2 linked regions of the Homo sapiens genome follow. The protein of the gene in region 1 interacts with the protein of each later gene in a pairwise test. Each region holds a gene or a part of one and is shown on either strand. Other genes may lie near its edges.

What was found. Proteins that work in one complex are often made in the same cells at the same time.
Region 2: the proteins of OXER1 (region 1) and NCS1 interact in binary tests that used the Homo sapiens proteins (3 or more experiments, as listed by UniProt).

The regions. Positions count from the first base shown.
Region 1 is NC_000002.12:42,761,119-42,769,099, forward strand, and holds OXER1 (oxoeicosanoid receptor 1), read right to left. Parts: upstream 3,018-7,981; 5' UTR 2,945-3,017; coding exon 1,790-2,944; 3' UTR 1,381-1,789; downstream 1-1,380. Other genes in the region: HAAO (3-hydroxyanthranilate 3,4-dioxygenase), read right to left, coding at 6,319-6,397, 6,477-6,559, 6,742-6,810. UniProt on the Homo sapiens protein: Receptor for eicosanoids and polyunsaturated fatty acids such as 5-oxo-6E,8Z,11Z,14Z-eicosatetraenoic acid (5-OXO-ETE), 5(S)-hydroperoxy-6E,8Z,11Z,14Z-eicosatetraenoic acid (5(S)-HPETE) and arachidonic acid.
Region 2 is NC_000009.12:130,223,604-130,232,473, reverse strand, and holds part of NCS1 (neuronal calcium sensor 1), read right to left. Parts: intron 6,086-8,870; coding exon 5,987-6,085; 3' UTR 5,970-5,986; intron 1-5,969. UniProt on the Homo sapiens protein: Neuronal calcium sensor, regulator of G protein-coupled receptor phosphorylation in a calcium dependent manner. Directly regulates GRK1 (RHOK), but not GRK2 to GRK5. Can substitute for calmodulin. Stimulates PI4KB kinase activity.

The DNA.
Region 1 (7,981 bases):
ATAGTTCGGACCAGGGAGTCAGTCCTACCTCCATGTGGCGGCAGCCTGAAGCCTGCTTCGCGAGGGAGCACCCAACCCCGTTTAGAGAAGGCCTTGCAAATGATGGAAAGGCGGGGAAGGGTGGTGTGACCCAGACTGTCAGTGAGGAAGCAGTCCTCAGGGTCAAGATGGGGAGCAAGGAGAATCCAGGGCAGGTTAGGAGTGCGGGCCTGAACCCTGTGACCAGCATCTACCCAGGAACTCCTCAAGGGCAGCCTCTGCTCTCTCCCTTGATGGGAAAAGACAGGACTGCAGACATGCCTGCAAACCATGGGAGTATCTGTCCATTTCCCTTCCATCAGGTCATGAAGGAGTGAGGGCAGGTGCTGGGAGAGGTGCGAGGACTTGAGGGAGGAGTTGGTAGGAGAAGGGTCCAGGGAAGAGGAGATTGAGGAAATGGCCCGTGGAGCTGCCCTGAGCCCAGGTGGGCGCATTCAGGGGCAGAGATGGTACCAGAGGAAAGGTGCCTGGTGTTGAGCTGGCGGTAAGTGTTGGCGCCCCAGGTGGGGATCCACCCGAAGGAGCTGCTCAGTCCCCATCCTCCAGGAGTGTGCAGGCCTTTCCTAAAAGACCTGACTCAGGCTGAGGTGGCCCCGCCCAGGGTTGGACTCCCTTCCCTGTGGTGACAGAGGGCGTGGAGAAGCAGGGACCCCCTAGGCGTGGCTCCAGGGAGTAAAAGGGAGCAGTAGGAGTTGAGGGGGCAAGAGGGGCCCATGGGGAGCCGAGAGACAGAAGAGCAACCCTGGGGGGGGCCCAGGTGGCACCCCAGTACCTTGGTAGGTTTCTGAGTGCAGCAGGTAGATTTTCAGAACAGGGAAGTGGGCTGGAGATACACGGTGGAGGCGGGGTCTGGTACTCACCCGCTCATCCTTCCCGGGCCCACCTCCCTCTGCCTGATACTTTTTCTCTCGCTCCCTCCCCAGCATCCACATGGACCCTTGATGCCACCCTCCTGGTCTGTGTGTGACACTTCTGGGCTTTCACTTCTATTCCTGACGACTTTAGTAGCTGGGGTGCGTCCTGTCCATGATATGAGAGGGCTGGGCTAAGTGGATTGAGGGAACTGGGGAGGGATGTTAGGTCCCCAGCATCAAACTCTGTACCCGAGGGCCTGGAGCCCTGGTGGCCTGCCTGAGGCCTCACCCAAGAAAGCAGTTCTGCCTTTCAGGACATGCCGGGGCTTCCCAGAAGTTCTGGGAAGGACAGTGCCCCCTGGGATGGGGCTGTGGGATGGCTTCCCCACTCTCTCCCAAGTTTCCCTTCACCTTGGGGCGCTCACTTTGACGCCTACTGACAGTCCCAGGTTAGAATTAAAGACAGATATTTGGTCTTGCAAATAAATATATTTAAAAGGGAAGTTTATTAATATTGGAAGGGACAAACTGGAGAGCACAGAACATGCAGCTGTCCAATTTCTAAGGTGACTCTGCTGTGACAGTGATTGGCGTCTGTCCCCTGCAGCTGCGCAGGCCCCTGTCTGAGCTGGTGTGCCAACGGCACCTTGCCTGTCTCCTCCACCCGGCATCCTGCTCTCCCCTGCATTCTGGGAATGCCATCCTGGACACACTGAGAGGCCTAGGTGGGTTTCTCTCCCTGCCACCCACCTGAGTCCTGCCAGTGCTTTGGCCTGGCCCCTGGTCTGCCGCCATCCCTTGTCCAGTTGGTTGAGGCACCGTGTGCTGGCCTTGTCCCTCCAGGCCAGAGCGCGGCAGCCCTTACCCCCACAGCGCTGCAGCCCTGCAGCTGGCCCTCAGCCCTGGGAGGAGCCTTCCTTTTCCAGAGAGACCTCGCCCTGCACTTTCAGCTTCCCTATGGCCTCCGCCTTCCTAGAGGCCTCCCGGTAGCGCCACTGCCTGGAGGGTTGGTAGGAGCTCTCGTCGCTCACTGGGCCCTGCCGGCCCCGCGTGAGGCCCAGCAAGGCCCGGCTCTGGTGGAGGAAGTTGGGGCTAGAGAAGCAGTAGAGCACGGGGTCCAGGACACTGTTGAGGTAGGTGAAGGCCAGGGAGCCATGGAAGAGCTGTGTGCAGAGGTCCAGGGATCGGCAGGCGGACAGCCAGAAAGCCACCATGGAAGCCATGCCAAAGATGATGCTGGGCAAGAAGCAGATGGTGTAGACGGCCACCACCATGGCCAGCACACGCATGGCCCTCTGCGGGCCTGCCTGCCCGCCCAGACCACGGTTCCGGATGGTGAGCCCAATGCTCACAATAGCAAAGAGGATGAGCGCCAGTGGCAGGAAGAACTCCAGCAGGTACAGTGCCTGGTGCCAGCGGAGCGAGGCCGAGGGCTTCGTGCCCACCCTGTAGCTGAGGCAGGAGGGGCCGGAGAAGGTGCTCAGGAGCAGGTGCCCGTTGAGGAGCAGGATGCCCACCCAGAGTCCCCCGGCCACCCGGGCAGCTGCCCCCACGGAAGCACGGCTCAGCACGTGGTGGGGCTGCACCACCTTCAGGTAGCGGTTGAGTGCGATGGCTGTGAGGAAGACAACGCTGGCCGTGCGGTTGGTGGACAGCATGAAGAGGTTGACTTTGCAGGCAGCAGCCCCAAAGCGCCAGGTCTCATGGAGGAGGTAGTAGTCCACGCGGAGGGGCAGGTTGCTGATCAGGAGGAAGTCAGCGGCCACCAGGCTGACCAGGAACACCGTGTTGGAGGTCCAGGGCCGCGTGTGGATGCAGAAGATGAAGAGGGCCAAACTGTTCCCCACCAGGCCCAGGACAAACTCCAGGGCCAGGATTGGTGCCAGGAAGGCAGACACCAGCGAGGAAGAGGTGGGGTGGCAGGGCCCTCCAGAGGACCCCCCCACAGTGGTAAAGGCAGAGGGAGCAGAGGAGGGTGAGGGAGAGAAGGAGGGAGGGAGAACAGAGGAGGAGAGAGAGGGAGATGGAGAGCTCAGGTTATGAAGTTCCATGGGCTGCTTGGGCCATGGGCCTGAGAGAAGGTTCTGGAGTCTTCTACCCCTGCAGGAGTGCTCAGGGCAAAGTGGGATGATTGGCACTATCAGCTGGCCACCACGGTGACACAACATCCTGGGGTTTTCATCAGCATTCTCGCAGCCACTGAGAAACACCCTGTGTTCCTGTTTGCAGGCCAAGGGGAACCCTGCAGCCCTCCCTCCTTCCCTCCGCCTCGGGGTACTGAGTGATCCCACCACATGAGGTCTCTGAGCCCAGCCTGGGGGTTGTGCTGCTGGTAGAGGAGGAAGCAGGGCTCAGCAGGGGCAAGATGGAAGCCCAGAGAAACCCTGAAGTGGGAGGATAGTCCAGCCGGGTGAGGTGGGGGCTCTCAGGATCATGCAGCCCTCCCTGGACACCCCCTCCTCCACTACATATAGAGGCTGGTGGCTGCCTCCCTGCCCCCACCAGCTCTGGCTTCAGGGACTGTGGAGCCAAAAGGACATTGTCCTGAGAGGTAGGCAGGGAGTCAGTGAAGACCTCCACCGCCCTGCTGGTGGCCTGGAGGGAACCAGTCCTATTTGTGCTCCGCCAGCCTGCTGTGTGTCTGAAAGCCCACTGTAGTTCAGCTTTCAGTTGCTCCCAGGTTCCTGATGGTTCCGAAGTCTGTGATGGTCCCAAGTCCGGGTACACGGTGAAGTAGGCCCCATGGACGGGGACGCCCCTGCCAAATTTCTACTGCCATGGCACGGGGAGCTGGGGGCTTCTCCCGCAAATAGAACAATCCTGATTTTTCCCTGTCTGTGTCTCCCCATGGCTCCTTGTCCACTCCACTCCTTGCCCCCATTAGCATTCACTGCGGAATAGGGAGTGGGAGGCTGGGGCTAGCTCCAGACAAGGTACAAGTCCAGCTGTCCCATGGTGAGGTATTCTCATGAGCCCATGGGCTGGTCCTGTGGGTGGAGATGAGGGCTTCAGGCTCCTGATAACCCGGGACAGCAGGGCCAAGGGAGGTGCTGGTTCCAGGCTCCAGGGCCTGACCCCATCACTGCCAACTGGCTGGGGTCAGCAGTCTGCCATGTGTGGCCTGGCCTCTGTGTCCCAGGCACAGTGGCCCCTGGCCTCTCTTGGCTGCCCTGGGCTCCCATTTGGTCAAGGCTGAGGGCAAACATCCCTGGGAGAAGCAGGGTGGTGAGGCCCAGCCTAAGCTCCATATGCAGACAGGCCTGGGTTGGAAACAGAGCTGCCCTATTTCCAAACCTCTCTGAGCCTGATCTGTAAAATCAGGCACTACCACCTTCTTGGAGAGTTGTGAGGATAAAATGAGATAATTTATGTAAAAACTTATAGGCCAGGCACAGTGGCTTAAGCCTGTAATCCCAGCACTTTGGGAGGCCGAGGCGGGCAGATCACGAGGTCAGGAGATCGAGACCATCCTGGCTAACACGGTGAAACCCCGTCTCTACTAAAAATACAAAAAAAGTAGCCGGGCGTGGTGGCAGGTGCCTGTAGTCCCAGCTACTCGGGAGGCTGAGGCAGGAGAATGGCGTGAACCTGGGAGGCGGAGCTTGCAGTGAGCTGAGATCGCGCCACTGCACTCCAGCCTGGGCAACAGAGTGAGACTCCGTCTCAAAAAAAAAAAAAAAAAAAAAAACAAACTTCTAGGGGATTCCTTGGGACAGAGCGAGTGTTCACAAAAACAGATCTAATTTTCATGACTTTCTCTCTGGATTAAGCTTGCCCTGCATATGAGAGTAAACTCTTCTCTTCACGGCCATCGGTATTCTGACCTGGGTCCTCCCTGGAACATTCTATGTCTTCTTCTCAGGTCCTGCACGGAGCAGTGCATTGCTACAGGCCAGGAACGAGCCGCGTGGAGCCTCTGCCTGTGCCTATCCTGGACCATTTGTGTTTGAAGGAGCCTGATGGTGTTTTTTCTTTGCTTGCAGGAGAGGAAAGCCCTTAGGGGTGACGAGGAGGTTGAAGGTCCCGATGTCTCTTAGGGCCAGTAGCCTTTTCAGCAAAGGCAGGTCTTTCTCTGCTCCCAGTGGAGTGTAGGAAGGCAGTGAGCCACTGGGCTGGGGATGAGGGAGACAGGGGTCAAGTGTTCTTTTCTAGAGGAAGCTTTGAGTCCACGCAGGGACCTGTTCTGTCCAGATCTGTCACTCTCATGTGCATGCCCTCATTGACTTCTCACGGAAGTCCCAGGAAACTGAGCTGCGCCCGCTGCAGGTTCCACATTCTTGTCTCTTCCCACTGGTGCCTCTGAGGCCTCCAGCATCCCTAGACACCCATAGCAGGCTCAGGGGTCCCTCTGGAGTCTTTGAACAGGGCACCTGTGCATGACAGGGGAGGGAAGGGGACACAAGGCCAGACACCCCCACCAACACTGCTGAGCTCCTGGTACAACTTCATGCCCCTCTCCAGGCTGATCATAGTCTTTAGGTATTAACAGTGGTTAGCTCTGGGTGGGGGATTTTGTGTATTTCTGGGTTTTCTATAGTTAGCACAGATGACTTCTGTTATTGGAAAAAAACTCAACAGATGCTAGTGTTTTAAAGTTATGTAAAAAGACAGACTGGGCAACATGGTGAAATCCCCATCTCTACAAAAAAGAAAAAAAAAATTAACAGGGTGTGGTGGTGCATGCCTGTAGTCCCAGCTACTCAGAAGGCTGAGGTGGGAGAATCACTTGAGCCAGGAGGGTCAAGGCTGCAGTGAGCTCTGATCACACCACTGCACTCCAGCCTTGGTGACAGTGAGATCCTGTTTCAAAAAAAAAAAAAAAGTAAAAAGAATAAATGAGAACAGAGAAGGAAGTGGAGAGATGACATTAGCCGTGCTCCCAGGACCAGGCATGGAGCATGCGTGGATCAAGTCACACACACAGTGAAGAATGCCCATCCACAAACAGGGATGCCCAATAACAGACCCTCCAACACGTCCATGGTCACCTGGTGCCCTGATGCCCCAGACACACCACATGGTCCTGGGGGGCACATGGGAAGGCCAGTGATGACTGCCTGCGGCAGACCCCCAGGTGTGCGTTCCTCAGGAAGCCTTTATTGAGGGCCTTCTTGGTGTGGAAGTGCTGCACTGAGTCTGCAGGGACAGAGGAATGGGCAGGAGCGGGGCCGGGGGTAGACCACCTGGCAAGACTGGCAAGGCAGTGGGCTGAGTCTGCCAGAGAAGATGGGGAGCTGCTGCCCGCCCAGGGGCATGGCATCTGGGCTGAGAAGGGCAGGAGGGTGGGTGACAACAATGTGCAGGTCTGTGGGGGACACAGCGGCAGTACACAGAGAGGTAGTGGGGGCTGGGAGAGTTGTTTGGCAGGGATGGCACTCGAGGGTGCTTGGCACACCTGTGGCTGCTTCAGGCCATGGCAAGAGGGTCACCCCAGGGGCTTCTTGCAGGCAGGGTCCTGGGTCACAGACAGGGCCACAGAGCCTTGTGTTCGCTCCCAGGCATACCTGTGGACACACAGATGAGCAGGGATCACACAGAGTTGGACCCTGAGGATCCCAGGGAAAGCCCTCCCTGCGTACTCACGAGGTCCCAGCTAGCACCAGGAGGCTGTCATCAGGGGCCAGGCTCAGGCGCCGTCCCCCCATTGTCACCACCGAGGAGCCCTCCTGGAGAAGAGGAGCAGGAGAATCAAATGGAGACTGTTGGGCCTCATCACCTGGGTGAATGTCTGAGTCTGCCTGGGCCCCAAGGCCCCAAGAGTGGGCCCCGTGTGGGAGCCCAGGGCCGAGGAGCGGGCTGATGCCCTCTGGCAGGGGGTTCTGCAACCCTGTCCCTGGGCCCCACTTGCCAGCTGCCACAGCCACACGTCCACATTCTGTCTCAGGCCTTCGCTGCTGCCTTGCCCATAGGCGATCACCTGGTGGGAGGTGAAACAGAAACTTCTGGTGCTTCTTGCCCCACATGGGAGATGGTCTTGAACCTGGCCCCCAGACACCAGGCCTGCTTGGAGCAGGGTTGGGGCCCATGAAACAGCCCCATCACCATGTGCTGAGCAGAGACCAGGACTTGGAGAGGAGGGCTGCCTGGGCTGCAGGCCTCCCTGTGCCCGCCGCTGCAACAGGTATTTGGGATCACACATGCCTGCCTTTCACGTGCAGTGCACCCGTGGTCCCTCTGATGTGTGCTCATGCGAAGGCATGCTCACCAGGGCACATGAGGGACGCATTTCCATCAGCTTCCCAGAGGGTGCCACCTCCCTTTCTCTGAGAGAGGTTATGAGTCTGGCCTCAGGAGGAGGAGGGGACAAGGAAGGTGAGGCTGAGGGCTCTCTGACATGCACCAGCCTGGAAGCACACAGCTACTGTGCAGGGCCGTGCTGCTGATGCCCTGGAGAGGGTGCATATTCATTAATGTAAACTGAAGCAGGTAAGAGCAGGGTATTGCAGAGGTGGGGTGCAGGGCTGAGTGGTACTGCTGTGACATGTGCGCATGTTCTCGCAGCCCTGTGTAAGCTCAGGACGTCCCTGGTACCCAAGAGCAGCAGGCCAGGCCTCTACGGGAAGCCTGTGGCCATGAGCATCCCTGCACAGATTGACTCATTCAAAGCCCATGGGATGTGCCAGTGGCAAGCCGTAAAGCACAAGTGAACACAGGTCTCCCTGCACCACTCTTGCCCTCCCAGCCTTGTTCCCACACGTGGTACAGAAACACCACTCTGGCCTGTCACTCCCCTGCTTCAATACTTTGGTGGAGGGCTGTTGTCTTTAGGACAAGTCCTCCCACCTTGCCTAGCCCAGCAGACCTACCAGGACCTGGGCCCTGCCTGCTGCTCCACAGTCCACCAGTCACACTTGTACCCCCACCCCCAAGCCCCGCCTCTGGCCAACTTCGGCTGCTCCCAGTGCCAGGCTGTTTCAAGCCTGAAACAGCTCATGCTCATGCTTCTCCCTCACCTAGAATGCTCTCTCCACCTCCCTTTCTTTCTTTTACAAACTCCTACACTAGCTTTAAAATGCAATGTGCATGTCACCTCCTCCAGGAAGCCTTCCTTGACTTCCCTTTCAGAGTGGGTTCCTCCTTTATCCTTC
Region 2 (8,870 bases), on another chromosome or scaffold:
TACCACTGCACCATCTGTAATAGCAGAAAACAGAAAACAAAAATGGAAGCAGAGAAAACAATCTAAGTGTCCAGTATCAGAGGAGTGGTGGGATACATTAGGACACACCCACAGGATAAAACAGTTTACAAACCATTAAAAACAACACATAGAACAGTCGATAAACACATGAAAAGATGCCCAACATCCCTAGTCATTAGGGAAACACACATCAAAGCCACAGGGAGGGCCAGGAGTGGTGGGTCAAACCTGTAAATCTAGCACTTTGGGAGGCCAAGGCAGGAGGATCGCTTGAGGCCAGGAGTTCAAGACCAGCTTGGCCAACACAGTGAAACCCGGTCTCTACCAAAAATACAAAAATTAGCCGGACGTGGCTGCGCACACCTATAATTCCAGCTGCTTGGGAGGCTCAGACAGGAGAATGACTTGAACCTGGGAGGCAGAGGTTGCAGTGAGCCGAGATTGCATCACTGCACTCCAGCCTGGGAGACAGAGTGGGACCCTGTCTCAAAAAACAAAAACCACAACAACAACAAAAAACCACAGTGAGGCAACCACTTCACACCCACTAGGATGGCTACCTTTTTTTTTTTTTTCATGGAAAATAACAAGCGTTGGCAAGGATGTGGGAAACTGGAACCTCTGTCCTTTGCTGGTGGGAATGCAAAATGCTGTCACTAGTTTGGAGATCAGTTTGGTGGTTCCTCAAAAAGTTAAACATAGAGTTAACCATATGACCCAGCAACTCCACTCCTAGGTATATACCCAAAGAACCAAAAATCCATACTCAGGCCAGGTGAGGTGGCTCATGTCTGTAATCCCAACCCTTTAGGAAGCCAAGGTACGCGGATCACCTGAGTTCAAGAGTTCGAGACTAGCCTGGCCAACATGGTGAAACCCCATCTCTACTAAAAATACAAAAATTAGCTGGGCGTGGTGGTGTGTGCCTGTAATCCCAGCTACTCAGGAGACTGAGGCAGGAGAATCGCTTGAATCCAGGAGGCAGAGGTTGCAGTGAGCCAAGATCACGTCATTGCACTCCAGCCTGGGCAAAAAGAGTGAGACTCCACCTCAAAAAAATAAATACATAAAAAATAAACAAAATTAAAGTTTTTTTTTTTTGAGATAAAATCTCACTTTATCACCCAGGCTGGAGTGCGGTGGTGCAATCTCAGCTTACTGCAGCCTCACCCTCCCTGGTTCAAGCAATCCTCCTGCCTCAGCACCCCTAAGTAGGTGGGACTACAGGCACCCGCCACCACACCCAGCTAATTTTTGTATTTTTGGTAGAGACAGGGTTTCACCATGTTGCCCAGGCTGGTCTTGAACTCTTTGGCTCAAGTGATCCACACAGCTCGACCTCCCAAAGTGCTGGGATTACAGGCGTCAGCCACTGCACATGGTCTAAATAAATTTAAGAGACCTATCAACCTATTACAATGGGTAGACTTTATTCTGATTCTGATTTCAGTAAACAAAGTTAAAAAAAAAAGAGTAAGATAACAGGAAACTAGAATAGCAACTAGAGATCAGAGGATATTAAGGAATTATTGATTGCTTTTGCTTTATGAATTTTTCAAAGAATCTTTATCTTTTAGAAATACATTTTGAAATGGATTAAGTATGATGATGTCTTGAATTTGCTTCAAAATCACAAGAGTGGGGGTGGGGGGGGAGGGCACAGATGGTACAAGATTGGCAGGGAACTGGGGATTCGGAAGCTGAGTGATGAGTACAAAACATTACACTTTTTTTTTTTTTTAAAGAGACAGAGTCTTACACTGTCACCTAGGCAGGAGTGTAGTGGTACAATCCTAGTTCACTGTAGCCTTTAACTCCTGGGCTCAAGGGATCCTCCTGCCTCAGCTTCCTGAGTAGCTGGGACTACAGGCATGTGCCACCACACCTGGCTAATTTTCATATTTTTTGTAGAGACAGAGTCTCTCTATGTTGCCTAGGCTGGACTCAAACTTCTGGCCTAAAGCAGTCCTCCCACTTCGGCCTCCCAAAGCACTGGGATGATAGGTGTGAGTGACCACAGGCGCCCACTCAGCATTACACTATTCTCTCTGCCACTGTGTATGAATGTTTCCATAACAGATAATTTGTTTTGTTTTGTTTTTCAGACAGAGTCTCACTCTGTCACCCAGGCTGGAGTGCAGTGGAGTGGTTTTGGCTCACTGCAACCTCCGCCTCCCAGGTTCAAGCAATTCTCCTGCCTCGGCCTCCCAAATAGCTGGGATTACAGGTGCCCGCCACCACACCTGGCTGATTTTTGTATTTTTTGTAGAGACGGGGTTTCACCATGTTGCCCAGGCTGGTCTTGAACTCCTAACCTCAAGTGATCCACTTGCCTCAGCCTCCCAAAGTGCTGGGGTTACTGGCATGAGCCAGTGCGCCTGGCCCATAATAGATAACTTTTTAATCCCTTCCCCAAATTCCCAACAACCTGAGTGTCCAACACTGTGGAACTGGTTAAATTATGGCCCAGCCATGTGATGGAGCATTATGCAGCTATGAAAAATGATGGCTCAACATTTAATGATGTGGAAAATAAGCCTCATCTCAGTTTCTGAATAAGTCAATGACTTACATCACTGCAAGTGATCTAGGAATTATGAGCTATCAGGAACCTGAGGAGGCAAATAAATCATTAAAATGATAGAACACAAATTGGATATAATCACTACCGCGTAGGCACAAGGAACAGCCCTATAGAAGAAAGAAGGCCATTTCCCAGCAGAGCTAATAGAAAGGGGGATCATATCATGCGAGGGCTCTTGTCACTTTGACAAGCTTGTCATGGAAATAATATGACATGGTGATTTGCAAAAGAGGACTGTGAAAAATTAGACAACGGATCAGCATTCACCATGGGACATGTCAAGGTACACGTCAAACATTTCTATGATGGAAATATTGGCCAGGCGCGATGGCCCACACCTGTAATCCCAGCACTTTGAGAGGCTGAGGTGGGTGGATCACAAGGTCAGGAGTTCGAGACCAGCCTGTCCAACATGCTGAAACCCCATCTCTACTAAAAGTACAAAAATTAGCCGGGCGTGGTGGCAAGCACCTGTAATCCCAGCTACTTGGGAGGCTGAGGCATGAGAATTGTCTGAACCCAGGAGGCAGAGGTTGCAGTGAGCTAAGATCACGCCACTGCACTCCAGCCTGGGAGACTCCATCTTGGAAAAAAAAAAAAAAAGAAATATTAATAACAGTGATAGTTCCTTTATAAATTGGTTTTAATTATATAATTTCTGTGTGACTCAGTTTACTGAGTGTTAAGTTTTGTAAGTGTTCAATTCTTTTAAAATCACTCTGGACACTAAAATGTTCACTGTGATTATATCTGAGTCATACATAAGGGGTTTTTTTTAAAATAAACTTTTTAATTGAGGTTTTCTCATTAAACATATTTTCAATGTCTCTTCAATGAAAAAGGATTTCTTGTGAAAAATAATAATAATAATAACAGACGCTTCAAAACAGTGTAGGCCTGGCCAGGCATGGTGGCTCACGCCTGCAGTTCCAGCACTTTGGGAGGCTGAGGTGGGTGGATCACCTGAGGTCAGGAGTTCGAGACCAGCCTAGCCAAGATGGTGAAACCCCATCTTTACTAAAAATGGAAAAATTAGCCAGGCGCCATGGTGGCAGGTGCCTATAGTCCCAGCTACTCGGGAAGCTGAGGCAGGAGAATTGTTTGAACCCAGGAGGCAGAGGCTGCAGTGAGCTGAAATCATGTCACTGCACTCCAGCCTAGGTGATGGAGTGAGACCCTGTCTCAAAAAAAAAAAAAGAAAGAAAGAAAGAAAAAAACAGTGTAGACCTCCTAAACAAAATGCCAACAAATCAAATTTTATGATACATAAAAAAATAACACATCACAGCAAAGTGGAGTTTATTCTAAGAATGCAAGGTGACTTAGCATTCAAAAACCAATCTATGGCTGGGTGCAGTGGCTCACACCTGTAATCTCAGCACTTTGGGAGGCCGAGGTAGGAGGATCACTTGAGGTCAAGAGTTCCAGACCAGCCTGGGCAACATAGTGAGACTCTATCTCTACACTACAGAAAAAAAACAAAACAAAACAAACAAACAAAAAAAACACTTTTTTTTTTAAATTAGCCAGATATGGTGGCAAATGTCTGTAGTCCCAGCTACTTGGAAAGCTGAGGGCTGAGGTGGGAGGCTCGTCTGAGTCTGGGAGGTTGAGGCTGCAGTGAGCCATGACCTGGTGGCTGGGTAACAGAGTGAGACCCAGTCGCAGAAAAAAAAAAGAAAGAAAAAGAAAAAGTGATGGATATCACTTCCAAGATTATGCTATAAAAAGACACTGGCTTTCATCCTGGCTCTCTTTCTCTCCTTCTCTCTTGGAAAGCTCTGAGGGAAGCCGGCAGCCATATTGTGAGGCAGCCCTGTGCAGGTGTCTACATGGCAAGGGAACAAGGCTGCCAAACCACATGAGTGAGCTTGGAAGCAGGTCATCACCAGCCAAACCTTCAGATGAGACCACAGCCCTGGCCAATGGCTGACAAGTATCCCAATTTTCCCGGGACTGAGAAGTTTCCTAGAACAGGGAACTTGCACTGCTAAATCCAGGATAGACCTGGGCAAACCCTATTGACAGCTGAACTGCATACTCCTGAGAGTCCTTGAGCCAGAGGCACCCAGCTTAACTGTGCCAAATTCCTAATGTTTGTTCTTAAGCTGCTGTTTGTGGTAATGTAATATGTAGCAATGGATAACTAACCTAGCACATCACAAATGAGCACATTAAAATGGGTGATACACTTATAACAAGGCATTCAACGTCACTGCTTATCAGAGAAATGCAAAGTAAACTTAGAACAAGTTATTACTCCATACTCACAAAAATGGCTAAAATTTGAAAAGACAGAAAATACCCAGTGTTGGCAAGGATGTGGAGCAACTGGAACTCTCATACACTACTAGTGGGACCGCAAAACAGCACAACCACTTTGGAAACTGTTTTCTAGTAACTACCAAAGCTAAATATTACACATATCCTATGTCCCAGCAATTCTACCCTTACATATACACCAACAGCAGGCATCCACTGGTTCACCAGGACGTGGACAAGAACGCTGATCTCTGGACAATACCTTGGACGTTATTCACACCCACTCCCCGCAGACTACATTGAACACTCCACAAAGAAGAGGCAGGAAAAAAGGGGAGAAGGGAGGAGAGGAGAAGGAAAGAAGGGAGACAGCTCTCTACCAGCAACAGGGGCCTCTGCCAGGCGTGCTATCATTCTGTGACAGCTAGGAGCTTAGTTAGGTCTTCAACCGGCTGCTCAGAGAGGGGATAAGAAATTGCTCTCCCAGGTCCCTGGCCCTGGTTGGGAACTAATTTTCAAAGTGTCTTCCACCCAGGACAATTCTTTTCTTTTTTTTTTTTTCTTTTCTTTTTTTTTTTTTTTTTGAGATGGAGTCTCACTCTGTTACCCAGGCTGGAGTGCAGTGGCACGATCTCGGCTCACTGCAATCTCCACCTCCTGGGTTCAAGCGGTTCTCCTGCCTCAGCCTCCCAAGTAGCTGAGACTAGGTGCGCACCACCACGCCCGCCTGATTTTTGTATTTTTAGTAGAGACGGGGTTTCACCATGTTGGTCAGGCTGGTCTTGAACTCCTGACCTGGTGATCCGCCTGCTTCAGCTTCCCAAAGTGCTGGGATTACAGGCGTGAGCCACCGCGCCCAGAAAAATTCTGTTCAAGCAAACTCGCAGGCTGATCTGGGTCTATAAAAATGATCAAAACAGAGGAGCTCTGACCAATTTGAAGGCCCCCCTTCCAGCCTCCTCCTCCCAGCTATGTCCCTGCTAGGCTGACCACAACACCCCCAGAGACCCAGGTAATTACCTGCCAACCGTAGGTGTCCTGCTGCTGGGTTTTCACCCCTGACCCATCCCAGACCCACCCCAGGCCCCGAGTCTGCACTCACCCAGCTCCAGCCTGGGACTATACCAGCCCGTCGTAGAGGGACAGCGCCTGCACAATGGACGGGTCTGCCTTGGAACCCTCCTGGAACTCCTGCAGGGTCAGCTTCCCGTCGGCATTCTGTGAGCAGAGAGAGGCGGCTGAGGGTGCAGGGCCTCCCAGGAGAGGGCTCTAGACAAGCCCAGCCCAGGGCCGGTCCCAAGAGCCCTTCCAAGGTTAGATCAGGAGGGAGGCAACGTGGCTCAGGGCCTACAAGCAGCCAGCACCAGACAGACCTCGGCACTCATGGCAGGGTGGCCTTGGGCCGTGGCCCACCTCTCTGGGCATGTTTCTTCACCTGGGGATGGAGGGTAATTACCTGGCTTCCTCCAGGCACTCGGGTGACAGCTCTGTGCTTGACCAACTGGAAGTGCCCTGTAACTCCACACGTGTCATGGTTAATGCTATTAAACCCCATCAATGTGAGTAACTGACAAGGCTGAGAGCCTCGTGCAGTTCTCTGGGGTCACTCTTGGAAGGGCATTTAAACTGCTCCTGGAGCAGCCCACACTGGACCCTGGGAGACCCGGCAGGGGGCTGGACATGGCTCAGAAAGAGGAATTTTAGTGGGTCTCTCGGGGAGGGGATGTTTGGGCCAGAATCCCTTCCCCGGAGCATCTCTCAAGGAAGCCGGCGGACCACAAGGAAAAGGCCACGGAGAGCACCTACTCGATCTCGGGTATCCAGAGAGGGTAAGTGCCGAAAACAGCGCCGATGAGCACAACCGAGCTGTGCTCAGGGATCGCTCGCTGCGTACACGACATATGCCAAGCTCGGCGCAACCCTCAGTGTATGGAACCCTCACGGCCAAGCCAAGAAGGGGGTGCTGCTCTCATCCCCATTTTACCAGTGAGGAAGCTGAGGCTCCGTCACCTACCCAGGCCCCAGGGCTGGGAAACGGAGAAGTCAGATTCACACCCCAGTCAGTGTGACTACAGGGTCTGTGCTGTTTCCCAAAATGACGGAAGTGCAGACAGGGGGACAGTAAGGAATGTGCGGCCTTGGCCTTAAGCCACGTGGACGCACACCACGAGAAACTTATTATTCCGTGCTCCACACTCTGTCGATAAATCTTTTGATCATTACCAAGACGCCAGCTGGGTCTGAGGCCAGCACGTCTCTACCACTCCTCTAACATGGGCTAATCTCCCTTTTTTAATTAAGAAAGTACAGGCCTCAGGTCAAAGCTTTTAGGGCAAACAGCTGTCTCCAGCCAGAATCTAATAAGCAGCCCTGCGTTACAGGAATTTCTATGATTGACTGATCGATTGATTGATTGAGACAGGGTCTCACTCTGTCACCCAGGCTGGAGTGCAATGGCACCATCACGGCTCACAGCAGACTTGGTTTCTCAGGCTCCAGCCATCCTCCCACTTCAGCCTCCCGAGTAGCTGGGACCACAGGTGCACACCACCACACCCGGCTAATTTTTGTATTTTTTGTAGAGTCGGGGTTTCATCACGTTGCCCAGGCTGGTCTCAAACTCCTGAGCTCAAGTGATCCACTCGCCTTGGCCTCCCAAAGTGCTGGGATGACAGGTGTGAGCCACCGCACCTGACCATTTTATGTTATTTTGCTGAAGGCACGTAACACCTGGATTTCCCTAACGTCATTATTTCAAATTTACATTTAAGTTATTTTAGTTTTAAGTAAGTTTGATTTAAAGAAGGATTCCTTATTTCTTTGGAGTCCCTTTTTTTAGGCTTTTATTTTAGGCTCAAGGATACATGTGCAGGTTTGTTATATAGGTAAATCCTGTGTTGTGGGGGTTTGCTGTACAGACTATTTTGTCACTCAGGTGATAAGCATAGTACCTGATAATAGGTGGGTTTCGATCCTCACCCTCCTCTCACCCTCCACCCTCAAGTAGGCTCCAGTGTCTATGGTTCCTTTTATTTTATTTTTTTTCTTTTGAGACAGTCTCACTCTTATTGCCCAGGCTGGAGTGCAGTGGTGTGATCTCGGCTCACTGCAACCTCTGCCTCCCAGGTTCAAGCAATTCTCCTCCCTCAGCCTCCCGAGTAGCTGGGATTACAGGCATGTGCCATCATGCCTGGATAATTTTTTTTTTTTTTTTTGAGACTGCGTCTCACTCTGTTGCCCAGGCTGGAGTGCAATGGCGCGATCTCCACTCACTGCAACTGCTGCCTCCCGGATTTTTTTTTTTTTTTTTTTTTAGTAGAGAAAGGGATTCACCATGTTGGCCAGGCTGGTCTCGAACTCCTGACCTCAGGTGATTCACCCGCCTCGGCCTCCCAAAATGCTGGGATTACAGGTGTGAGCCACCACACCTGGCTTTGGTTCCCTTTAAAGAAGGGTTTCTTGGCCAGGCACGGTGGCTCACGCCTATAATCCCAGCACTTTGGGAGGCCGAGGCTGGTGGATCACGAAGTCAGGAGATCGAGACCATCCTGGCTAACACGGTGAAATCCCGTCTCTACTAAAAATACAAAAAATTAGCCAGGTATGGTGGCATGCGCCTGTAGTCCCAGCTACTCGGGAGGCTGAGGCAGGAGAGTTGCGTGAACCCAGGCGGCAGAGCTTGCAGTGAGCCGAGATCGCGCCCGCCACTGCACTCCAGCCTGGGTGACAGGGCGAAGATTCTGTCTCAAAAAAAAAGAGAAGGGTTTCTTAACCTTGGGCCTGTGGATAGAAGTCAGCAGGTCTATGAACTTGGGGGAAAAAAAATCAGCCTTTTTTTACTAACCTCTAACTGAAATGTAGCTTTTCCTTTGATGGAAACCTAGGCGACGGTCCCCAACAGGACCTGCAGTACCTGTGATCTGTCGACAGTAGGGATCACAGGTATTTTCATAACACACCCTAGTTGCTGCAGATATTACAGCTCGCAATTTCGGGGGTTGCT